3 separate regions of the Homo sapiens genome follow, and all the other regions are linked to region 3. The links come from fine-mapping of genetic effects on gene expression. A gene starts in region 3. Each other region holds a variant in brackets. All regions are shown on one strand. Distances are from middle to middle.

Region 1 (8,186 bases), 32 kb before region 3:
GAGTGCAGGTGATCTGCCCGCCTGAGCCTCCCAAAGTGTTGGGATGACAGACATGAGCCACTGCATTTGGCCTAAATCAAGGGATTTTTCTAACTATTGATAGCAGAGAAGAATTTTGAAAGTTAGGCAACTCCTCACATATTTTTAAATCAACATCTAACCACTTTTATCAGAAGTTTGAATGGTTAATAAAAAGGTAATTACTGATAAAATTGAAATTACTATTAAATAATAAAACTCTTGTACCACTCTTTCAAATGTAGCTAGTAGAACACAAATACTGTAGTGATTTAATACCTACTGTTATTCATTTAAAAAATAAACAGGTTCTTCTTTAATAATTGGACACTTCACTCATTATTTTTCTTCTTGAACAATTTGTTTCAGTAAGGATCATCTCGATGTGGCAGGGAGAGCTCATGTATGAGTTAATCTGACTACGTGTTCTGTAAGTCCAGTAATGCATTTTATGTGCTTTGTTCACCTAGATATGCTCAATGACCAGAGAATCTACATCTAAACCCTTAAGCTCAGCATTACCCTCTGCACTTTTAAGCATGTGCAGCAAAAATTCAGCAAGCTTTTTGGGCCACCAACCCCATCAGCCCCACTGCTTGGCCTGGGCACACCCAACAACTCCCCCCCTGAAATGTCGGAATGGTACACCCTGCTTCTGTAAAGTGACGTCTTTCAGATACTTGGGGCTTTTTGTATATGCATACCCCTGATGGCCTGGGCAGTTTCATGAGTGTTCTGAAAGTGAACACAAAGATTTGAACCTCTTGATTTGCATAATTTTGTGGGATTTTCTGGGTCAAGTGAATAGTGAACTATTTTCACAGATCACCTCAGGTCACTTAGGGGAAGAGCAGTCTCATCATCTTTAACTTCTTAGCAGTACTTGACACTGTCAACTACTAACCAATTATCAAATCACTCTCTTCCTTTGGCCCCTATGAGACCATGCACTCTAAGTTTCCTACCACCCCTGTGGCCTCAGACTCCTGTCCTGATCCCTTCTTCTCAAGCCACTTCTGAATGTTGGGGCTCCTCAGGGCTCTGTCCTGAGCTCAATCTGTTCCTCGTGCTCTGTTTTGTCATTCCAGGATGATCACATTTACATAGGCTGCTGATTCAAATATATATCTCTAATCTAGTCTCCTTGCAGAGCTCCAGGTTTGCGTAGCTAATTGATAACTTGAATTCTCTATTTGGAGGTCTCAGAGACATCTCAGATTTAAGATTTACAAAACCAAATTCTTAATCCTTGCCTGCTCAAATGTGCTTTCCTTTGGTCTTCTACATCAATAAATAAGATCTTCACCTACTTAGATGCTCTAGCATGAATACTGGGTGTGTCATCCTTGATATAGCCCTTACCTTCAACCTCACCTCCCTCCTTCAACCCTACCTTCAATCCTAACTAAGCCATCACTGAGTCTCATAGATGTATCTCTCTAAAATATTCCCTGTAATCCACTTATCTTTGTTTCCACTGTCACCACAATCCAAGCCATCAGACTTTTACAATAGCTTCTTAACTGGTTTTCCTCCATGCTTTTTCTTTCTTTCTTTCTTTTTTTTTTGACAGGGTCTTGCTCTGTCAACCAGGTTGGAATATAGTGGCATGATCATAAATCACCGTAACCTCAAACTTCTGGACTCAAACAATCCTCCTGCCTCAGCGTCTGGAGTAGAGGGGACTACAGGTGCATGCCACCACACCCAGGTAATATTTTAATTTTTTTGGAGAGACAGGGTCTCACTATGTTGACCAGGCTGGTCTTGAACACCCAGGCTCAAGTGATCCTCCCACCTCAGCCTCCCAAAGTGCTGGGATTACAGGCAGAAGCCACTGTGCCTGGCCCCTTGATCCTTTTTCTAATCCATTCTTCACATAGGAACCAGGGCAATGGTTAAAAAGATAAATTTGATTGTGTTATTTCCCAGCTTAAAACCCCTCGATGACTACCCACTGCACTTAGATAAATAAAAATCCTCCATCCTCAATATTGCCTACAAAACATTGCACAATTTATCCCTACTATCCCAATCTTATGACATGTCTCTCTCCTTGGCTATGGCCCTACCACGTTAGCCTTCTTCAGTTCCTGGAGGGTGCCAAGGTTTTGCTTACTCAAAGCCTGCTCAGTGTCCAATACTCTTTACCAGGCTTTACCCTCTAGTCTAAATGTAAGTGTCATTTCCTCAAAAGTCCTTTTCTAACCTCCCAATCCAAGTCATGCTCCATTTTGATACACAATGTTTATCATTAGCCATACACATTTCCCTACTTATTTGCTATTTCGAACAGTGCTGCTATAAACATTTTATGTATGTGTGAGTTTCTGGGGCAGTGCTTTTCAAACTGTGGGTCCCAATTTGCTGGTGAACTAGTAATATCAATTTTTAAGAAAACAAGAAGGAAAAAAGAAATTGAAGAAGATAGAATAAAAATACTAGAGCTATTGCATGTAACAAGCATTAGCTTTGTTTTATGACATTTTTATTTCAGGGTGTGTGTGTATTGGATCACAAGGTAAAATGGATTTATTACTGCAGGTCAAAGTAGAAGAAGGTTGGAAAGCCACTAATTCAGGGTATATTTTAGGAATGGATATCTTGGGTCATGGCCTTTGATTATAATTTCAAACACAAATATAGAAAATTAGAAGATTCAGAGAATACATTATATATTTATACATACATATATTGCACTTTGCTCTTGGTTTACTCATGCTAGTTTCCATAAACTTTTGCTCACAGTAAACGTACTTTTTTAAGGGGAAAATTCTTAGAGTAAATTATCTTACATATATTTTCTAAGGGGTGAGTTATTTATGTAGAAATCAGTGTTGTTTAAGCACACAGAGCAGTGACAGAAACCAGGAGGTCTTAAGTTTTTGGATGCATTCTCTTTTCATAACTTTCTACATCACCAATTTACATTACAGCTAGAAATAAATCCTCCATGTTTATTTAAACACTAAAAGTGCAGAACACATTTATTTTATTGTATAAAACTCTACTGGAAAAATCCTGGCTGCTTAGGATAGTAATCCCCAATCCATGGACAAAATACCATCTCCATGTGCTGTTTTCTATTCTTGTGCCATTCGGTGCTGCCCTTTAACCTACCTTTACTGCACAGCAAAGATCTGTAACAGAGCCAATCCTACCCAGCCAGAGCAGACAGCTGCCTCTGTGTAGATCTTGAAAGGAACTGCAGGGCAATCTACGCAGAAGCATCTCCCTACTGCCTGACTTTTCACCATTAGAGTGACTTGTTTGATATCAACCAGATGACCCTTGTTAAAATACAAATATCTTAGGTAAAAGGAGGAAGTCACATTTTTAAACTATCATCCATTAGCTAGTGAATTGGTTTATTGGATTAGTTTTAAAACCAGGATCAGGATCTTGAATGAGTGAGATGAAAATAATTGACATGCTAGGCCAAAGAAAACCAAGAGGCAACAACGGCACCTTTAGTGAGAGGGCAATCTGAGTTTCCCTGCTGAAACTGAAGAAAGAAGAACTAGAGATAAACTCTCCCTGCTTTGCAGTTTGCCCTGCCTGTAAATACTAACTCTGTTATGATGGCGCCATCTTGGAAGCACCATGAATCACAGCAGTCAACATTTCAGCTCTGTTCTATCCAACCTCATTCACATTCTCCATCCATTGTGAGGCATCAGGCATTGCTCCATTCTTGCATTCAAATACAGCTACTCAGAGTCAATGTTTGGAACACAGAAACCATCCAGGTTTGGATACCCATCTGGTTTATGTGTCGCCCTTTTATTTCTATTTTAATTATATTTAGGACTGTCCTGATCCTTCTTTTAGCCAGTTTTGTTTTTTCAATCAACTCCAAATAGAGACTCCTCTTGAGCAAAACCAGTACTGCCCTGTAGCTTAAGCCAGAAATGAAAAGAGGAATGCTGGATTTAAAAAGCAATAAAAGAAAACAAATCCAGACAGGGAACAGGTCTGTTTCTTGGGACACATCAACCTTACACCACATTGTCAAAGTCACTTTTTATTGAAGAAGATAAACAGCAAATTTTTTTTTAGATGAAATCCCTCCATGGCTGATGTAAGAAAGAGGTCTTTTGGTAAAAATAGCAGTAATGACAACTTTAGATTGCCATTTAGATTTAGGTCCAGGTTTAGATTGCTGTGCCAAGATTCAGTTGTAGGGGTGAGTTATGAACAGGCCAGCTGCTCATGTATTCAAGTGGATTTTGCTCCCAGAAGCCCAGGGGCTCTGCATTTGGGGGCAGGCTGAAGACAGGCAGAGTTCCTCGCCTTCAGAGCCTGGAACTTCTACTTCCCCGTCACTTACTCTCTGGCTAAGCTTTGATTAAACTCATTCACAGTGAGGTGTAAATGACAAAGGAGGTTCCTTGTTTGGTGTTAAGCCTCCTCCCACTAGAAATTCATAATGCACATTAGCATATTAAGATGTTGAGAAGTTCTACTGAGAAGAAACCTGTCTAATTTTGTTTTGCCCGAAGTGTCCAATTTGACCATGTACCTCTTTTTGACTTCAGAATAACTACTAATATTTTGGGGAGCACTAGCATTGTGACAACTGTACTCCTTTCAGTTAAATGATTGCATTTCT[C/A]ATCCATTCCTTCTTTCAACAAATAGCTACTGAGACCTAGTATGTACCAGGCACTGGTGAGTAAAACAGGCACCTTCATGGAGTTTACATTGTTTAATGTTTGTCTCATCCATGGTTTGTTGTTTAATTAATTAACAAACATCTTTAAAATAATCGCACAAGTGAGAACAAAGCTGAGCCAGGGGAGCCCTTAAAGGTTCTCTTCAAGGTAACTGAGGAGACCTGGAAGCTGGTGCTAACTGGATGAACAGAGTGGAGGCCTGAAGGGAACAGCGTTCTAGGAAGAGGGAACAGCAGTGACAAAGATCATGGTGGTATTCAAGGAAGCAGAGTGCGGGTACCATTCCTGTTTGAGGCTAAAGAGGTGCATAAAAGCCAGATCATGTCAGAAAATTGTCGGGGAAAGATTTCTTTTGGCCCAAGGGTCCTTTCTCAGTGCAGCTGAAATCGCAGCACCTCTGTGTGTTGGGCACTTGCCAGGTCCCAGGTAGGGGCTGTGTCAGGTCACCACACAGACAGGCATTAGTGCCTTTGTTTTTCAGAGGAGGAAACAAAGGTCAGAGAAGCACGTGGCCTGCCAAGACCATCAAGCTCCTTGGGGGCAGAGTCAGAATTTAAATCCAAGTCCGTCTGAGTCCAAAGCCATGTGCCAAACTAACAAGCTGCTGAAGACTGCTGTCTGACATTACTGACTCCCTCCCCAAAGCTGGCGCTTCTGTGAGATTCCAGACTCTGGTGGAGGGTGTAGCAGGGAAATGACAAATGCAAGTGTAATGTTTCGTGTCAGAAAGTATAGCAGTGGACCAAAAGGTAGCCATTCTGAGTACCAAGTGTGGACACAATTTTCCTTTTCATGCTTTGAACTAGCCTGTTGTCCTAAGCACAGCAGGGAAAGCCAAAGCAGCCTTTGGAAGTCCTGGTTTCCTGGGGCTCTGAGTCCTGAGATGTGGTAGTGGATTTTAGATATCCCAGGAGCACAAGCCTGTGGCCCCCATGGGCCTCTGTGCCAGCACCCCAGACCCCAGACTCCTGAGAAGTTCCGGGACCCCCAGGGAGATGGGTTGGTGATACCAGTGAGGCCTGAGAAATTCACAGCTGCCAAAGAGTACTTGAGCTGGAGGTTGGAAGCCGGGGAGTTGGTTTCAAGGCCTTTTAGAAGCTCTTAGAGTCTGGCATCCTGTTTCATGTGCAGAGTGAAAGCGTGTCCTCAAAAAGCCCTGGATCTGCCCTACTTCCTCTCTGGACTTTCTTGAATATAGAGTGGCAGACAGGGCTAGAACCCCATTCTCCTGACATTCTCTATACCATACACTTACATGTGTGTATGTACATGTCATACATACAGGCATGCACACACACACACAAAACACACACACACACACACACACACACACACACACACACAATTCTTTCCATCTCCACACAAAACTTACTATAACTTGTGTCTGCATTTCAGAAATCCTGGAGTCTCTTACATCTGATAACGGTTCGGGGTCGCTATGTCCCAGTGAACTGTCATCTGGGGGGATGAAATAGCTCCCAGGGTACACTCTCAGTCTAACCAAGTGGATATTCACTGGCCTACACTGAGAGACTCCGAGGGGGACAACTACTCTCGGTAGGTCCTCCCTGCCCTTCAGAACATCACTGTCTCCAAAACAATCCCTTTGTAGGGCACAGGCTTTTGAGCACACATATACCTGAATTTGATTCATGGCCTTGCTGTATGACCCTGGCAAGACTTTCAGCCTCAGTTTCCACATCTACAAGATGAAGATCTAATTCCCTCTTCATGGGGTTGTTGCAGCAACTAAATAAGCTCTTATAAGTAAAGCAGTTCACACAGTGCTGGGCACATGGTAAACTCTCAGTAAATAATAGCAGTTATTTCTATATAGATTGCCCAGCAGAACTCAAGGGCTCAAGGTACATAAGCAGGTGGGACTAGCGGGAAAACCTGCAGCAGTGTAATCTCTGGCTCTGGCCACCCCACCCCTTCCCACCCTGATCTTCAATCAAATCTAAGGGTCCTCGAATAAACTGACAAGTGGCCTAGGCTCTCTGCCATCTCCTTGGGCCAGGGCATATCTACAGGATTGAGGACACATAGGGTAGTAGATCAGGAATTACCTTCGCGGTAGTCCTTTCTTCATCTTTTCTTGGCTGTTTGATCTTAGGCAAATCATTTACACTCTGCATCTCACTTTTCTCATTTGTAAAATGAGAATAGTAATGACATTCTCCCTACAGGAAATTTGTGCAGATTAATGAGATAATGTAGAAAGGGTGCTTAGGGTATAGTTATGTTTTATGATGGAGAAAGAGGACTGATAGTTCAAAAGTGTAGCCTCTGCTAGAAAACTTCCAGTAACAATGAGTTCACAGAAAGGTGATTACATTGTTACTCAGTTATAATTGTTTAAGGTTTTCCCTTTACATTAAATGGGTATCTGTTCATTTCAACCTTGACACATGTGGATTTCATAGGACAAACTCCAGATCCCTAAATTAGAATTTCTGAGGGACAGGGCCTGAACTTGTAGAGTTAAAAGCCCCAGTTTTAACTGTGACAAGCCAAGACTGCCCACCACCGGACTATGGACCAAGAATGACCTGGAGTTGGGGCAGAACTCTCCAGGGCTGACACTAATGTGACCAAGTTCTGTGGATAGCAGGGACAGAAACATAACCTGATTCAAACTGTACGCTTAAATAGAAGTTTGGCTAAAGTGGGAAATGTCCCACTTAGGAAAGTTTATTAGGAAAATCTCCAAATAGCTTAGACCTTCTGGATTTGTCTGACTTCTCCAAATGACCACACTTTAATTTATTCCTCCAATTGTCACCCCCAGGTATCTCCTAAGTGACTTGAGATGAAACAGGGAGAATGGCCACAGAAAGGTTGGCTGAAGGATTAGAGAGATTGTACACCTTCAGACTCAGGGGCTGTCAAACAGTGACAAACAGTGAAGAGTGAGTGAGGAGACTTCCCTCGTGTACCTCCACACACACCTTAATTGGTATCTGCAAGTACTTGTACTAAAATGGGCACATTTTAAAGCAGAAAGAAACTTTAACCACTATTTAGTTTGTGGGTACATAAGACATTCAGCTTACAGGTCAAGAAAGTGTTTTGCCCTATAATGTGTTTTGTCCTATAATGTGTTTTGTACAATAAGTTATTTAAAGCATAAAATGTAAGCAATACAATTATAAGGAAAATATACTGACTTCTATTACTACATTCTTTTTCCATGCTCTTCATCTTGGAATGTATTTACACATTGCCATTTTATATAAAATTATGTTATTTCCCTAGGAGATTGAGAGCTCCTTGAGGGAAGGGATCAGTCCTGATGCAAACTTACACAGCATTCTGAGTATTTGGAAGGTACTCATCAAACACTTGATGAAATATTAAATATCGTGGAACTTGTACTTTATGTTGCTAAACCTAGATCCAAGATAGGGCTGGCCTGTTTAGAAGTTACCACCCCAGCACCTTTTGCCACACTATGACAAAACAACCCTGGGAAGCCCCCAAAAGTTTCTCTGG
Region 2 (8,186 bases), 30 kb after region 3:
AGTCTCCCTCTTTTCAACTTCTGAATTAAAAAAAAAGTCATCTTATTTTTCTCTGTTCATTTTTACACTTTATTTAGCCTAAGTATCTGAAATTGGCTTTGCTAGAAATTACAATTAGTTCACTGTTGTTTTCTTTCAGTCCCAGACAAAAAAGAAAAATTTTAGATTTCTTTCTTTTCTCTTCTTCCTTTTTTTTTTTTTTAAGGTCATTTATCTTTGGCAGTTTTAGAGATTTAGAAAAGAAAATATATAGACTTGTAGGCAGAAGAAGATATGGCACTGAGGGAAGTTTTAGTTTTGTTCTGTGACAGTCTTCCTTATCTTGTATGTTGTCTTTAAAAAGCCTACACATTTAGATTTTCATTACCTCATTTGCAAGGATACAGGATAGCACATGTAGGAGAATTGGAGTGTAAGTCCAGAAACCTAAGTCTTATTCTTAGCCTTACTGATGAACCAGCTTTGTAACCTTGGGCAAGTTATTCTGTTTCTCTGCACCTTCTCATTTGTAAAATAGGTTTACACAAATCATTTCTGCATTTTGGCTCTGATTCATTATGCAAGTTATCAAAATCAAATTTGTAACTATAAATGAGTAATATTTTATTATTTTTATTTTTTTAGAGACAGAGTCTTACTCTATTGCCCAGGCTGGAGTGCAGTGGCACCATTATAGGTCACTGCAGCTTCAAATTCGTGGGCCCAAGCAGTCCTCCTTCCTCAGCCTCCTGAGTAGCTAGGACTACAGGCATGCACCACTATGCCCCGCTAATCATTTTTACAGAGTCACGCTATTTTGCCCAGGCTGGTCTTGAACTGCCCTCAAGTGGTCCTCCCACCTCAGTCTCCCAAAGCACTGGGATTACAGGCATGTGCCACCATGTGTGGCTCTAATCATTTTTAAAGCAACAATCAGTGGGAAATTTCAGCTCCAAATGGGAGAAAAATTTCCAAAGATTAGCCTTTTTTTTTTTTTTTTTTTTACAGATTTGCTACAGTTTTGTTAATGTGCTTATTTCTCATTACCATAGATAACTTTGAGATGGCTGCCTTGGATTACAAACTAGAATTTATTACTATTTCACATAGCTTGGGAAATTAAGTGTAGTTTGTGTAGCCTAAATTATCCTTTATAGAGATGTAGCTGCAAGGGTTAGCATTTCTTCTTTGAACCCCAGGTATGCAGTATATTGCTTAATACTCTATTGTTCCATAAATATGCATTCCAGAAGTCAGCTGACCATTTGTCCTTATCTTTGAGGACAAAGCCCGTACATATGTAAGCATTAGTGAGCAATGTAGAATATAAAGATTTGGTAGCAGTAGAGAGTTTACGCTCTACATCCCACTGCAAGTAATTTGAATATTGCCATATTATCCACTGTGACCTGTGCTGTTTGTTAACGTTCCTTTTCCCCACCTTCCCCGAGGAGCTTGTAGTCTCTCACTATATATTTTTTTCTCTTTGGATTTCCCTTCAGCCTTTAGATTTCTTATCTCTAATGCAAGTCTACTCTAGATTTTTCTCCCAAATGTTTAAAACCAAACCTATTATCTCAGTGGTCATCAAAGGTCCTCTAGTTACCAGTATCCACCCTTCTTGGAATGCCTGTTTAGCAATGTTCTTTTGTTATATGAGTAAGAATAACTCTGGTATTTGCTAAGAGAATATAATTTTCTCCACATTGTATGTATCTATGTCCTTTGTTTATAAAGCCTGGGGGGCGTTCCCTATTAGGTTAAGTGTCCCTACGTAAATAGAAAAATATGTAGGGTTTTATTACTCAACTTTTTAAGGTTTCTGCTCAAATTGTCAGTTGAATAACTCTTGTTACTTTGGGGCTAACATGTTGCATAGGGATTTTAACAATAAAATATATAGAGCATTTTAAAAATTATTCACTATAATTCTGAGTGGATTAAACCAAATGACCGGGTTCAAGACTCTACTATGAGTTCACCTTTGCTTAATAAAAGGCAAGACTGAACATTAATTAATGACTTCTTGGCCCAGCCTTAGAATTTTTCAGTTTAGGGATTAGTTTGGTTTTTAAAAGGTACAAAATGTTCATGAAATTTTCTGATTATATCAAATATTAATTCAGTCTTGTTTTTTGTCATAGTACTTTGTTTTGAAAAGTTCAGATCAACTGATAATACTAGTGCTGTGATGAGACTCAGCTTGTACTCAAGAACAGATTTATGACTAGGTGAGAACTAAAATTTCTCTCAGAAACTAACTAAAAACTTTCATGGACAAATTGAATCCCCTTGGGATTTACTATTTATGGATATACGCCAATTTAATTATTGGACTAAATAAAATACTCTTTATTAGTCCACTTATGGAAGATGACTGTGTAAACATAGTATTTGCAAGTAAGTACTTTTTGGTATTATATTTATATAATCAGCTCTTGTATCCATGTAGCTTATAGTTGGCTGCTTCACCAGGACTCTACAAATTGCTCAGAACCCAAGGAGGTAAGATTTTTATATTGCCTGTTTTCAGTATGTAAAAGTCCAGCCACAAAACTATTAATTTACCCTTGACTATATTTTTACAGTTGCTGTGGAGCTGAACCTAAAATTTTGTTAGATGGTTACTTGGTTTGTTACATTTTTATATACTAATTTATATACTATAATAATATACTGTATATATTTTTTAAAGTCTGGGGTTTGTTTTTAGAAAGTATATTCTATCTTCAAAGAATTATTTGGTAGTTTCATGTGTGTATCTGGAAAATAACTACTGTACTTCTTTATAAAAGTGAGAGTGAGGTCCCTGCTAGTTGAGGCTGGAATCTAGACGTGGCTGTTTATGTAGGAGTTAGTAATTAAACAGTGCCTGTTTGCTGACTGCCTCATTTTTGCCAGGCTCTGTATGGGTGCCTTGCAAGGCATTGCCTCATTTAAACCTTGCAGCAGCATTCAGAGGAAAGTATTAATATGCCCACTGTACAGATGAGGAAGTTGAGGAATGCTTTATTAGTAGGTGTGAAGTGTCTTAAGCATAATACCTCCCTCCTCAACCTTGCTCCCTCATCCTAGTTAAGGGAATTGAGACACAGAGATAAGGCAATTTGCTATTGACCTTCAGCAGATGACTTAACCTCACCGTGGCTTAGTTTCTTCATGAGTAAAACAGGGTACCTATCTTTTAGGATTGGTGTGAAGATTAAAGAAGTTAATACATATACAAAACTTTAGAACAGTGCTTGGCTAGTAGTAATCTCTCCATAAATGTTAGATGTTATTATTAAGCCTGTGACTACCTGTTATCTCATGTAGTTGTTCAGAGATAAAAATGTAGGCTATAGGAAAGAATAAGGAGGAAAGCCAGGCTCCTAATCTGTCTAAGATAGAAGTGAATCTTAGTTAAGTTTTAAGATAATCCTATGTGCTTTTAAAAGATTTCATGGTTTGCGGTTTGCTTTTCTTTGGCTCCCAGTTTCTTTTTTTTTTTTTTTGACTTCTTAGTACAGGTAACTTTTGAAGGAATTCAGCTTACCTTAGATGAACCAAAGGAAAGCTAAAAGCCGAGATAATTTAGAAAAACTAAAGCAGAGATTATGTTCCTAAATTCCCTCTTTCTGCTTCAAAGTCCAGGAAACACCACCTGCAGATACAGTTGTATCCCATTGTTAGACCCTTTCCTGAAGCCATCCTCTTTTCTTTGTCTTCCCAGAGAGAAACTAGTCATTCGACAAAGATTGAACTTCTTCTG[T/C]GTGTTAGGCTGTGCTCCAAGTGCTGGGAAGACACCAGTGAATAAAACAAAAAGTCCCTGCTCTCATGGAGTTTACAGCCACTATTCTAAAGTTTGTCTGTATTCTGCCTGTCCTTGTTTTTATACTTTTAGCAAATATGTGTATAGAATTGTTTTGCAGCCTTGTTCAGCATATTGTCTTCTTTTGTTTTTTAGGAATATCTGTTTATGTAATTAGATCTGTTTTTGATAAATTGTATTCTGTTATTTATCCTTCCTACCTTCTAATGAGCAGTTAGGTTATTTCCAACATTGACTATTATGGTTCTCCAAAAAGATCATTGAATATGTCACCTTGGATGGATGGATGGGAGAGTTTCTTCAAGACAGCATGTTTCAGACTTTTTGTTGTGACCACAGTAAGAATTATGTGCACCTCAGCTTAGTAAATACAAATATACACTTGGGACAAAAACTTCAAGAAACAGTATTTACTTACTTTTATCACCTGGGATGCACTCTATTTTGTTCTGTTTTGTTTTCTTGAGACGTTGTTTCGCTCTTGCTGCCCGGGCTAGAGTGCAATGGCATGATCTTGGCTCACTGCAACCTCCACCTCCCAGGTTCAAACAATTCTCCTGCCTCAGCCTCCTGAGTAGTTGGGATTACAGGCGCCAGCCACCACACCCGGCTAATTTTTTGTATTAATAGAGACAGGGTTTCACCATGTTGGCCAGTCTGGTCTCGAACTCCTGACCTCAATTAATCCACCCACCTCAGCCTCCCAAAGTGCTGAGATTACAGGCGTGAGCCACTGCGCTCGGCCTATTTTATCTTTTTCAAATGCAGTTTACACACAACCCAGCTGATTGGGTTGTGTGTAACCCATACTGATTAAACTGATTTATCACCCGTGTTCATTATTTTTAAAACGTTGTTTTGAGATCTATAATTAGAAGTGGAATTGCTGAGTAGTTGCTTAAGTGTATCTTCAACTTCTTCAACTAGCTGTTGCCAGTTGCAATTCAGAGTGGTTGAACCAATTTAAACTCCTATCGGCACTCTAGGGGAGTTCCTGTTTCTCCACATTCTGACCAACTCTTGATATTGCCAGATGGATGAGAAATGGCATTTGTTTTAAATGTGCCTTCCCCTATTTACTAATGAAGTGTTTAAAGTGTCTTTTAAAATATATCACATAGAAGTTTAATTTAATGGTAATCAGAGCTGGCGGCAAGGAGGAAATATTATTGTGATTGACTGCCTCCTCTGGCAGAAAAAATGGTGTAAAAATTATATAATAATATCTATATTATATTGAGTATTTATAATTTGCTAGACACTATACTTTGTGCACTGTATACATTATTTTATTTAATCGTCATAAGAATCTTGTAAGGTTAGTGCCTTCTTATATACTTTTTTTTTTGAGACGGAGTCTCGCTCTATCGCCCAGGCTGGAGTGCAGTGATGTGATCTCAGCTTGGCTCAGTGCAACCTCTGCCTCCAGGTTCAAGCCATTCTTCTGCCTCAGCCTCCCAAGTAGCCGGGATTACGGGCATGCGCCACCATGCCTGGCTAATTTTTGTATTTTTAGTAGAGACGGGGTTTCACCATATTGGCCAGGCTGGTCTAGAACTCCTGACCTCATGATCCACCCACCTCGGCCTCCTAAAGTGCTGGGATTACAGGCGTGAGCCACCACACCTGGCTGCCTTCTTATATGCTTATACAGGAACAGATGGAGAAAGAGATTCGGAAAGGTTCAGTAGTCACACTATTACTAAGTAGTAGAGCCAGAATTTAAACCCACATTGGTCTAATTTCATAACTTATTTTCTTTAGTACTTCATGCTATTGGTGAATTCGTAGAGGAAGGAAGTTTGTCATTACTATTCTTTTCTGTTGGTTTGTCTCTTAAATGTGTTTAATTTTTTGAGTTTCACTCACGTCTCTTTTTTTCTTTCCTTTTCTCAAGGTAGTGGAGTCTTTCCTCTGTAAAACTTCACCTTGTTGTTTCTAGTCTAGGATAGTGGTCTTGTAACCTAGGATAGTGGTCTTGGTTACTGCAATTTTGGTTGATTATTTCTTGTTGGCCCTTAATGTGCCCCCATCTTCTGCCTTAGGCATTCCATCTAATCTTTTCCAGCAGTTTGCAACCTTACTGTGCCTCAGAATCACATATGAAAATTTAAAAATCATAGATACCTAGGTTCCAACCCTACCCTGGAAATTCTGATTTGGAAATATTTATTTTTCAAAAAGTCCACAGATAATTCTGTTGCACAGCCATGGTAGAGACCCATTTTCTTAGGGGTTAATGATGCTTTAGAGTCACGCAGACTTGAATCAGAGCCCTGATTCCTTTAAACTTATTAGTTGAGTGATCTTGGCCAAGTTCTTTAATCTTGGCTAAGGTTCTTCATCTATAAATTGGAGATAATATTATTATCTACCTTAGAGAGTTGTTGAAGAGATTAAATGAAGTAATGCTTGTAAAACACTTACCAGAGGGACTTAGAATACTTCTTAAACATTGCCTGCTAATAAGGTGTCATTATTACGTTATCCTTTATCCAATCAAAATACTCACCTTTGCAGTGTGTATCAACTTGATGTCAGAAAAATAATCTGATAAATATCACCATAAGGGATGGATGATAGCTAGTTTTCATTACTTACCTTTCGTTAGTTGAACTGTACTAGGAGGCAGAGGAGTAGGCAGATGGTTTTATCACGCCAATCAGCCAGTCTTTTCTGCCTATGTATCAGTTTGGACCTATAAGGAAAATGAAGGGGAAAACAAATGTTTTTCTTTCCTTCCTAGGAGGATTTTCTTCTTGCCCTTTTTCTCCCAGTTTCCTCTCTGAGCTGAGTATCATTAGCATCATCAATACCCTAGTTTCAGAGCTGCGTAGTGATTTACCTAGATACTTTTCTCCACCATTATTCCCTACTACCTAACTCCTCTTCACCTCCATTAAATCTCTGTTCATCATGCTATCCTTCTTTTGGATTGCCTTTAGTTCAGTTGTGACTTACTTGATTACTTGAACCCAGGTGTCTACATTTCTAAGCTATTGTTCAAGTAAGGGCCAAGGTAAATTCTAACCAGCTGTCTCTTTGCCTTGTGTGGGCCCATTCTAGACCAGCGGGTGTTAACTTTTGAGTATTGGAAAAGGATTAGATTAGCTGAGCCTTCAGGCTTGTCAGCAGGGCTGTCACTAGACCCTTTGATCTTCTTTATATACCTAATGGTCATAGAGTATAATAATAATGGTACATGTTATTACTATATGATTAATAGATTACTAGTAGTAATTTTGTTATATATGTATACAGTACACTTCGTTATGTATATATATAATTGCTTGCAACTTGAAATTTGAGGCTACAACATTTACAGTAATTTAATAACTTAACTGACTTTATCAAAAACTGAAAAACCTCATGGAAAAGGTAGAATGTAAGGTAGACTTAAAAGGATAGGTATACTTTTTTCTATAAATAGGATGAGGCAAGAGTTTCCAGTTAAGGAAACTGACATGAGCAAAGGCTTGAAGGAGCATGCAAATTTGGAGCATTGTGAGTAGATTATTTTTTAGTTTTTCAGAGTTCATGCAGTGGGAATAAAACTAGGGAGTTTGGAATCAAGCTTGAAAATTCCTGAATGTTCAACCAAGATATATTTGAGTTAGTAGATTTTTTGGGTATGTCATGAATTCGTTTGGCTTTTCTTAATTGATATACATACAACTTAGTCCTGAGCTTACACATGTTCATTGTATCATTAAACATTTAGCCTGGTTGGTTTAAGTTGATGGCCACTGCCAGGTCTCCTTTCTGCCTTCTCCCCTTTATCCCAATGCTTTAGTTTTTTTCTGCCTTTTTGTCTGTTGTGATCTGTGCTTCATCAGGCTTTCCCCCAGTTCCTCCTTGTTAATCTCCAGATTCCAAGTCAGCAACACAATGAATGTCTGCTTATCGCGAGTTGTGAATTCCCGCATATCTCTTTCACTTATTAAAAAGATTGTTTGGTACATATTTTGTTTATAAGACAGTTATTGACTTTCCTGTTTCTCTTCCTTTGCAGACCTAGAGGATCAAGACATAATGGGAGCATTTTTAGACAAGCCAAAGATGGAAAAGCATAATGCCCAGGGGCAGGGTAATGGGTTGCGATATGGGCTAAGCAGCATGCAAGGCTGGCGTGTTGAAATGGAGGATGCACATACGGCTGTGATCGGTTTGCCAAGTGGACTTGAATCGTGGTCATTCTTTGCTGTGTATGATGGGCATGCTGGTTCTCAGGTTGCCAAATACTGCTGTGAGCATTTGTTAGATCACATCACCAATAACCAGGATTTTAAAGGGTCTGCAGGAGCACCTTCTGTGGAAAATGTAAAGAATGGAATCAGAACAGGTTTTCTGGAGATTGATGAACACATGAGAGTTATGTCAGAGAAGAAACATGGTG
Region 3 (8,186 bases):
GCTTATAATTCACTCTTTTCTAGCTGCTGCTGGATTGTCTGACGGGTCTTTCCTGGAGTTATGGAATACTTCTCAATTTCAATAGTTGAATAAAGGTGTTTTTTTTTCTGTCATGCAGGCTAGGGTGCAGGGGCATGATCTCGGCCCACTGCAACCTCCACCTCCTGAGTTCCAGTGATTCTCCTGCCTGCGATTCTCCTGCCTCAGCTTCCCAAGTAGCTGGGATTACAGGCGTGTGCCACCAGGTGTGGCTAATTTTGTATTTTCAGTAGAGACGGGGTTTCCCCATGTTGGCCAGGCTGGTCTTGAACTCCTGGCCTCAAGTGATCCACTCGCTTTGGCCTTCCAAAGTGCTGGGATTACAGGTGTGAGCCACTGCACCCAGACTATTTTTAATTTCAATTTTTAAAAAAGTTGCTTTGCTTTTTGCACCAGACCAACTCACCAAGTTATTTTCTATGGATTATACCCGTGCACATAATGTAGTTTCCTGATTATAAATTAAATATCCCTAATGTCCACGTTGAAACACTCTCGAAACTTAAATGACCATAAACTATTTGCCTTGAGTTTGCTGAACTTGTCTTTGGGCTGTAAGAAACTCTTTTCTGCCAAGCTCTTTTCCACATCAGGCCCTTTGCCCATGCTGACCCCTCTACCTGGAAAGTTCTCCCCTGATTATGAAGCTGACTCCTTCTCATCCTTTAGATCAAATGCTGCCTTCTTAGAGAGGTCTGCACTGAACACCTGTTTCAAGTCGTCTCCCGGATCTGTTTCCTTATTTATTTTCTTCACAGCATGGATAACAGTATGCAATTTCCTTTCTATCTGCTGACTTATTTGTCTATGCCTCTTATTATTATGTTGGCTCTTTGTGGGCAGGGCTTGCCCATTGATGTCATTATCTACCTCCAGTGTCCCACACAGTGCTTGGTGCACAATAGCTATCTCATGAACAGATGAACTTATCTGACAAGATCCACTCTAGTATTGTAAGGCTGTGGCCATATATGGCTATCTTGAGGTGAAAGCCTACCCTAAAGACTGTCCAGGACTTGGCCTCTGGTGCTCACAGTTGCCCAGGTTTCTCTCAGGTCGCAGGATGAGCCACAGTGGTAGCATAAGACTGCTGGCTGCTCCCCTCTGCCCCTCCCTAATGGGGCTGCCCAGTGATGTCACACAGGACAGGATTCTCTAATCCTTTTGATTCTGTAACAGTCCTCTAAGCAGCTAAGTTTCTCATAATGTATTATGATGTAGGGGAGGGAGGAAGGAGGGCCAGGGTAGGGGGCACACCCTCTCCCTGAATGAAATTCATTTAGGGGCACTGTCTGCTCGCATGTTCTGTTCTGGGAGAAAATGGGTAGCAGAAGCTACAATTTGTACTAAGCTAATGAAAAGAGAGAAAAGAAGAATGGGGAAGAGAAGGGCAAAGAAGGCAAAAAGAGAAGAGAAGAAAAAGGGAGGAGAGAGAAGGAGAAATGAGAAAAGAGGAAACCAAATGAAGAGGATGTGTGAGAGAAAAAAATATGAAACAGGTAGTGAGGGAGGAAGGAATTGTTGAACCTATGTTCTGGTTGGCTTTCTAACTCTTGAGTAGTGACTGGCTTCAGTGGAAAAGGATGGTGAGGGGTATTCTCAAATACTAGCCTCCTGAGGGGGTCATTTACATTACTGCATATATTTTGAGAGGCCCAGGCAAGTCTGCCTCAAGGGTGACTCTCCTGGAGAGTAATTTGGGAGCAGGAATGTAAACCTTTTTTTAAGTCACAATTGTGGTGGAAAGGGAAAGAGAGTATTGCTGATCAGATTAAGCTTTAGACTCCACACTACAGCCCCTGTCCTCACCCCAAGCCTCCCAATTACTAGGCTATCAACACACACTAAATTCAGGACTTTAAAGCCAATCTTGTAGATAATCTTTTTCTTTGTTAATTGAAATATAAACAGATTTCCAAAGCAGAGCAGGATAGTTTTATAATATACCTATAAAAATTACTAAAATGTCATCATCATGGCAATATATTCCCACTAAAATCTTACTGTGAACATCCCAAATATGTGTAGAGGCCCGGCAAAGTCTTACAGTTCAGAAGAGAACTTTCAATCCTCTTTTTTCAATGTTATTTTCCCCTTCTATCTGTCCCCCCTTCTTAGCATAAGGTTTAATAAAAGGGGATATGATGATATTAAACATATTTAATCAGACAATATTGATATCTTTTTAAAATATTAATCTTATAACCCATGAGTTTCCTAGTTCATACCAAAATGTCCCTGCAAGCTGTATTCAGAAATAAATAGTAGGAAGGTGCTGCTTTATCGGCAGTCTGTACAATGCGTAGACTCCTTAAAAATTTCTTTCTGTTCATATTTTCTATTTCTCTCCCTCTTCTTCTACAATTGACCCAGATTCTCCAAGTGCAGAACAGAGAGAAGAAAGGTGTGGAAGCCTAAAGGAAGGAAGCAGAAAGATAGGCAGGCATTTCAAGTTTTCTATGGTCCACTACCGTCACTAGTGACCCAGCTTCTGCTTATAAATAAGAAAATTTGTCTTTTAAGAGCACTCTAAATGGTTGCCATATGAGCTTTTGTAGTTCAGAATGTTAATGAGTCCACCAGCATGCTACTCATGCTGTTACTTGCCTGGAGTATTAAGGATTCCAAGAAGGTAGCGTTTCAAAGATCTCTGATCTAATTTCTTTTTTTGGGGGGTCGGGGAGATATGTGGAGAATTAGGAAATGTATCCTCAGATGATACTGAGACCAAATGCATAGTGAATTTTATTTTTATTTTGTATATGTGGAAATGATCCACGATCATCTTCTAAGGAATTCTGGCCGGGAACAGTGGCTCACGACTGTAATCCCAGCACTTTGGGAGGCCGAGGAGGGTGGATCACGAGGTCAGGAAACCGAGACCATCCTGGCCAACACGGTGAAACCCTGTCTGAACTAAAAATACAAAAAAATTAGCCAGGCGTGGTGGCAGGCGCCTGTAGTCCCAGCTACTCGGGAGGCTGAGGCAGGAGAATGGCATGAACCCGGGAGGCGGAGCTTGCAGTGAGCCGAGATTGTGCCACTGTACTAGCCTGGATGAAAGAGCGAGACTCTGTCTCAAAAAAAAAAAAAAAAAAAAAAAAAAAAGTGAAGGAAACAGAACCTTCCCCAAAGTCATGTTGAGAAAATTAGAGATGGCTTTTTACAACTTTAAAAGCAGCAGCTAAATATTTGCTGAATGCCAGAAAGAATAAATAGGTTGCTTTTGATCTAAGAGTTGGGGCAACAAAATGGTTTAGGAGATAGAAAGTAGTAGGGTGCAAATTGCTATAGTGAGCTCCTCAAGTAAAATAGAGAGGCCTTCAACATAAATTTACCTTTTTTACTGGCCAGAACTCAATTTGGCCAGTAAAAGAACCTGCCTTCTACAATGAAGTCTTTGGTTTGTGTGTGCATCAGAACATCTTTTAAAAATACGGACTTTTCTTCTAACTTCTTTTCCTGCGAATGTGGTGTAGGTCAAATTCGTGAACTGGTTAAGCCGCTGACAAGAGAGGGAAGGGCACCCCAGCCAATGGGAACCCGTGCTGGTGATGTACTGCTCCTAGGCTGCGATTCATTGGCTGCCTAGGGTTTGTCATTCTATCCCCGGCGTCTGCAAGCAGCGTGGGTCGGGTTTTCCAGCTAGCTAAACTGGATTTTGGCCGCTGGCACGTGCAGTTTCTATTAACTTTAGCTCATCTCTACCTCTTAATAGAAGCAGCTGTTATGTTTCTGATTATTCTCCTGATTTTGAAAAATCCTGTTCCCTTAACCTACCTCATTGGAGGTCGTTGGAGGTCCCCTGGGACAGAACCACGTGATTATCTAACATGTGCAAATAAATACAATGTGGAATCCCCTGAACTATAGAGGGAAAACCTGCCAGAAACTCAGAGCATGTGCCCCGTGCGTGAATCAGTTGCACTCGCACATTGGTGGGCGGTGGTAGCGTGCTTGTGTCTCTGCCCTTTGGGTCGCGAGGTGTGTGGCCGTGGCACCTGCTTGGGCTTCCTGGGGTCACTGGGAGAGGAAGGCTCTGGAGGAGTGGGACTCTGGGGTAGGGGGGTCTGGCAGCTGCCTGGGACCCACCATGGGTTCGAAGGGCAGCGGCCAGACCGCGACGGCGCCCAAGAAGGGTGGACAGCTTCGGGTCTGTGCTCGGGGCTGCGTGTACACCATCTTCGCAGGGAGTGGGGTTTGTATCTGCAGGCAGGTAGAAGAGCCAGGGCTCCGGGCGCGGACGCCGTAGGGGTAGCTTCCGAGTCCCTACTTGGCCAAGGGCCGGCACGGAGGGGCTGTCGATCTACTGGGCACCTAATAGCCGCACATTCTGTCCAGTCCCTGGCGCCGGAACGTGAAGGCCCGGGTCCTGGCTGCTATCCGGGATCCGGACGCTCCCTTCGGCTTCGGCCTGGTGCTCCAGGCCGTAAGGCAAAGGCGGCGGCAGCAGCAGCGGCAGAGAAAGAAGCTGGGTAAGGCAGTGACGTCATCTGTGGCGGCCCCTCCCCCGCCCGCCAGCCCTCACCGCAGTTCCTGCCCAACGACATCCGGGTCTCTGTAGCTGCGCGCCGCGCCGCAGCTGTAGCGGCGGCGGAGCCAGCGGGGCGGGGCGAGCGGAGGGGTGGGGGAGGGGCGACGCGGTCGTGAGCGCGCCTGCGCGGGGCCGCGCTAGAGGCGGCGGCGGCGGCGGTGGCGGCGCTAGGGACGGGAGCGCGCGCGGGAGCTAGAGAGCAGTGGTCTCGGCGCTCGTCCGGCCCGCAGCTTCGGGTCCTCAGGCGGCTGTTGCTCCGGAACGGGTGGTTGGGGAGGGGGGGGTGGGGGGACTCTAGACAGCTGAGGCGCGAAAGCGATGAGTCCTCGGCTCTTCCTCCTCCTTCTCCGGGACCCGCTCTCTGCCTCCCTCTCCAACGCCCGGATGATCTGAGCCGCGAGGGCGCCGACAGCCGGGGGCCCGGACGCAGCCCGGCTCCTCCCCTCCTCCGCCCCTTCCCCAGCCTGACCTGGCCCGCCGCTGCAGCGGTGACCCCTCCCCCGGCTGCCGCCGTCGCCGCCGCGGTGACCCCCTCCCCGGCTGCCGCCGCCGCCGCCTCGGCCGACCAGGGACCTGCCCGCCTGCGGCTGCTCCGGGTAAGTGCGGCGCTCGGGCCGACGGCGGGCTGGCGGGCGGTGCGGGCCTGCGCGGCGGCGGCGGCGGGCAGGCCTGGGGCCTGTAAACAAGCCGGGCGTCTGCCCGGGCGCTCCCGGGAGGAGACGCGACAACTCCACCCCCTGGCCGGCCTCCTCCCCCGAGCCGGGCGGCGGACGGCGAGGGGTTAACGCTCGGCGAGGGCGGTGGCGGGGAGGCGGGGGCGGGGTGTTAGTTGCGGTGGCGCGGGGAGGGGGCGCGACCCTCTGGCCGTCCGCGGCCGAGATGGGTGTTTGTGGCGGCGAAGCAGGCGACGGCCGCAGGCCGGCCTGGCCGGAGAGCGGCCTGCAGAACTTTTCCCGAGCGGGGAGGGGGCGTCCCCGCGCCCCCACCCGCTCGGGCGCGCCGCCCCGGCTGTCCTGGGCTTCAGCCCCTGGGAGGGAGGCGGGGAGACTTCCTTTGAACCGGGCTTAGCCTCGAAAAACCTAATTCTGTAGAAATTGCTTAAGGTTTTACAGGGGGCAGGGCTGAGAGACTCCTTCAGAACTCAAGTCAGTGAGTGATGCCTCTAGTTCATTCATTATTAAGGCATCGAACAAATCCATTGAAGTAAATTCCGATTTCTTATCCTTTTAACTACGTAAATCGGGTAAAACTTCTTGATGTTAGAGCTTGGTTGAGGTATGGTTCTGTTCTGCTTGTAGATTTTAAATAAACTTGGAGCCTTTTCTTGAAAGACAGCTGGCTGTGGAGAGCCTTCTACCAACTGCAGTTTTAGATACGTTTTGAAAATTTCATCACCTGAGGTATTTTTCTTCTCTCCTGAAACACCACATGGTACAAATCCACAAAAGTCATGCTTCAGTTGTCCAAGCCATGGGATCTGTGTGCTAGCCCCACCTCCCCGCAAGTTTCCTGCTCATTGGAATAATGAGCTGAATGTGTTTTAAGAAGTGGTTGGAAGAGTATGAGAGATAGGTATCATTTTCTCAAAGGAAATGATTTTGACATTATTGAGAGAAATTAGACATTTTAACAATTGTTTTGTAAAACAGTCTTTTCAAACTTGCACGTTGGGGTTTTAAACACAACCACTTTACATGTGTTGCGCTCCGAAAAGTGGAGGGATTTGTTGAAACACTACTCTGCTGAGACTTAGGGTTCCAGAGCACTTGGGAATTTAGCATAGCTTGGTCCCCAACTCTCTTTGAAACACTTTACTTTTATACTTTTATCTTGCTACATATTGGGCCTTTTCCAAAGATTGTATTTCTGTAACTCCTTATTTTACAAATGAGAAAATTGAAAATAAGGAGATTCTCTATTCTTAGATGCTGCTTTTACTGACTTAATGCTTTCTTTACCAATAAATAATTTGAAGCACAAAGTAACATTTCCTAGTGTTATAGTTTTGTTCTTGTTATGTGTAACTTATATGTATCTGATTAAACTTTCAGTCATGTAAGGATGATTACTTTTAACCTGGAAGTTTACAGCAGTACCACATTATTGAAACTATAATGAACTTCCTGCACATGGCAGTTGCCTAAGACATTTTAATTTGATATCATAAAACATTTTTAGATCGGTGAAGTAATTATATTATGGGAAAGGTGTATTAAGACTGATAATGTTTGAAGTTAACTACCTCAATTATATTTGAGAAATAATAGTCATCAAATTGCTTTTTATTTGGCTTGTATCTTTTTATGTATTTTGTGTACATATTGTATCTTTTTACATGAGGGGCTGAGGTATATGACCTGTTGAAGGGAACAGTGCAGTAGGAGACAAGGATTGTTTAGTCATGGCTGTGCTCCAAAATATCTGTGTCCATGGACAAGTCCTTTAACCTTTTGAGTTTCAGCTTCCAAATCAGTAAAGCCAGTTGGGCAGATTATATTATCACATGTACTGTCCAGTTACTACATTTAAAAATTTTTTTTTATCAATATTGTGTGTCTAGTCAACATACCGTTGCCAAATAAATGCCTGTTATGTGTCAGGCACTTAGATGTTTCAGTGTTCTAAGGCTGGATTTCTTTCTCGGTTCTGTTTTATTTAACAAATTCTAAGTTGGTGATGGTTCTTTAGAAAAGCTGTTCTTGTGTTCTTGTAAGCTATTGATTTTTCTTTTGGGATTGGGATGTGTAGGGAAACTCTTGAGAGGAAGGAGGATGGAGATTTCATGGGAGACAAAGGGTGGTTGAGACTACAGGTTTGAACAAGCACAGGACCCTTGGTAGTCTGATGTGAAGGACATTATAAAAACACATTATGAAGGTTTTTTCTGTCACTTCAAGCTGGGTCTTGTTAAACCTTTGAAAATTCTCTAATACCTCATTTGTTTTTGAAAGAAATCTATAGCAACATCATTTTGTCATGTGGTAAATATTGCTGAGCAGTCACTAAATACCTATAGTCTTTTAGTTTGTTCAGATTACATCTAGGCCATTTGTTTACTCTAATAGCTAATAGAATGTACAGCTGATTTTGGTTTAACTGTGCGTGCATATTTGTAATTTTTAACCAAGAAGTGGCATATGTCCACAAGGAACTTGTTATCTCTGAAATACTCACCCATGAGAGCTGGATTAATTTTTTAAGATGTAAATCTATGCTCATGTAGAAATAATATAACAAGGTGATATTTTGATGATCCTCTCAAATGATTATCTAACTCTTGCCTGGGCACCTGACTCTGAGTCAGTATACTCTTGAATACTTTCCATCCTTAATCAAATCAGGAGAAAGAGATGGCCATGTAAGAAAATTGGCCACGGCAGGGTTTTATAAGAGTTAAGCAAGAAGATAAAACAACACATGGCCCTGTGAAATATATAAACCTTGGAGAAGAGGAGAAGGTATAGTGAGGCAACTGGGTAAAAGTTGTGTCTTCCTCTAAGTAATTTTATGTCACAATATGTCCTGTCTTCCATCTCAAATAACAAATTTTAAAATTAAGTTGTGTTTGTTATTTTGCTATTAGCCAAGATATATAAATTAACTGACCTGGGAT

Which allele goes with the higher level. Positions count from the first base shown, and alleles are read on the strand shown. Sizes are in standard deviations (SD) of each study's normalised expression. Not every link is listed here.
With allele T in place of C in region 2, the expression in sun-exposed skin of the gene that starts at base 4,713 in region 3 is lower (moderate effect, 0.46 SD a copy in GTEx).

The links.
Region 1: its variant is fine-mapped to the expression of PPM1A in whole blood (INTERVAL, PIP above 0.99).
Region 2: its variant is fine-mapped to the expression of PPM1A in sun-exposed skin (GTEx, PIP 0.97). The same link has a PIP of 0.9 or more in lung, spleen and tibial nerve.

Annotation. Positions count from the first base shown.
Region 1 is chr14:60,212,082-60,220,267 of GRCh38, forward strand. It overlaps the pseudogene RPL17P2. Among named protein-coding and RNA genes, the nearest start is that of PPM1A, 33 kb to the right of the region's middle. RefSeq lists enhancers at 953-1,032, 8,068-8,186. The variant C/A (reference allele first, on the strand shown) is at 4,631.
Region 2 is chr14:60,274,882-60,283,067 of GRCh38, forward strand. PPM1A (protein phosphatase, Mg2+/Mn2+ dependent 1A) reads left to right here. Exons shown (of 6, transcript NM_021003.5): 2 at 7,803-8,186. The coding sequence starts at 7,823. Among named protein-coding and RNA genes, the nearest start is that of PPM1A, 30 kb to the left of the region's middle. RefSeq lists an enhancer at 7,400-8,186. The variant T/C (reference allele first, on the strand shown) is at 3,731.
Region 3 is chr14:60,244,509-60,252,694 of GRCh38, forward strand. It overlaps PPM1A (protein phosphatase, Mg2+/Mn2+ dependent 1A), which reads left to right and starts at 4,713. Exons shown (of 6, transcript NM_021003.5): 1 at 4,713-5,169. It overlaps LOC101927702 (a long non-coding RNA gene), which reads right to left and starts at 1,128. Exons shown (of 3, transcript NR_188027.1): 1 at 1,037-1,128. RefSeq lists enhancers at 3,267-3,516, 4,059-4,787, 4,097-4,146, 4,207-4,556 and silencers at 4,657-4,756, 4,957-5,696.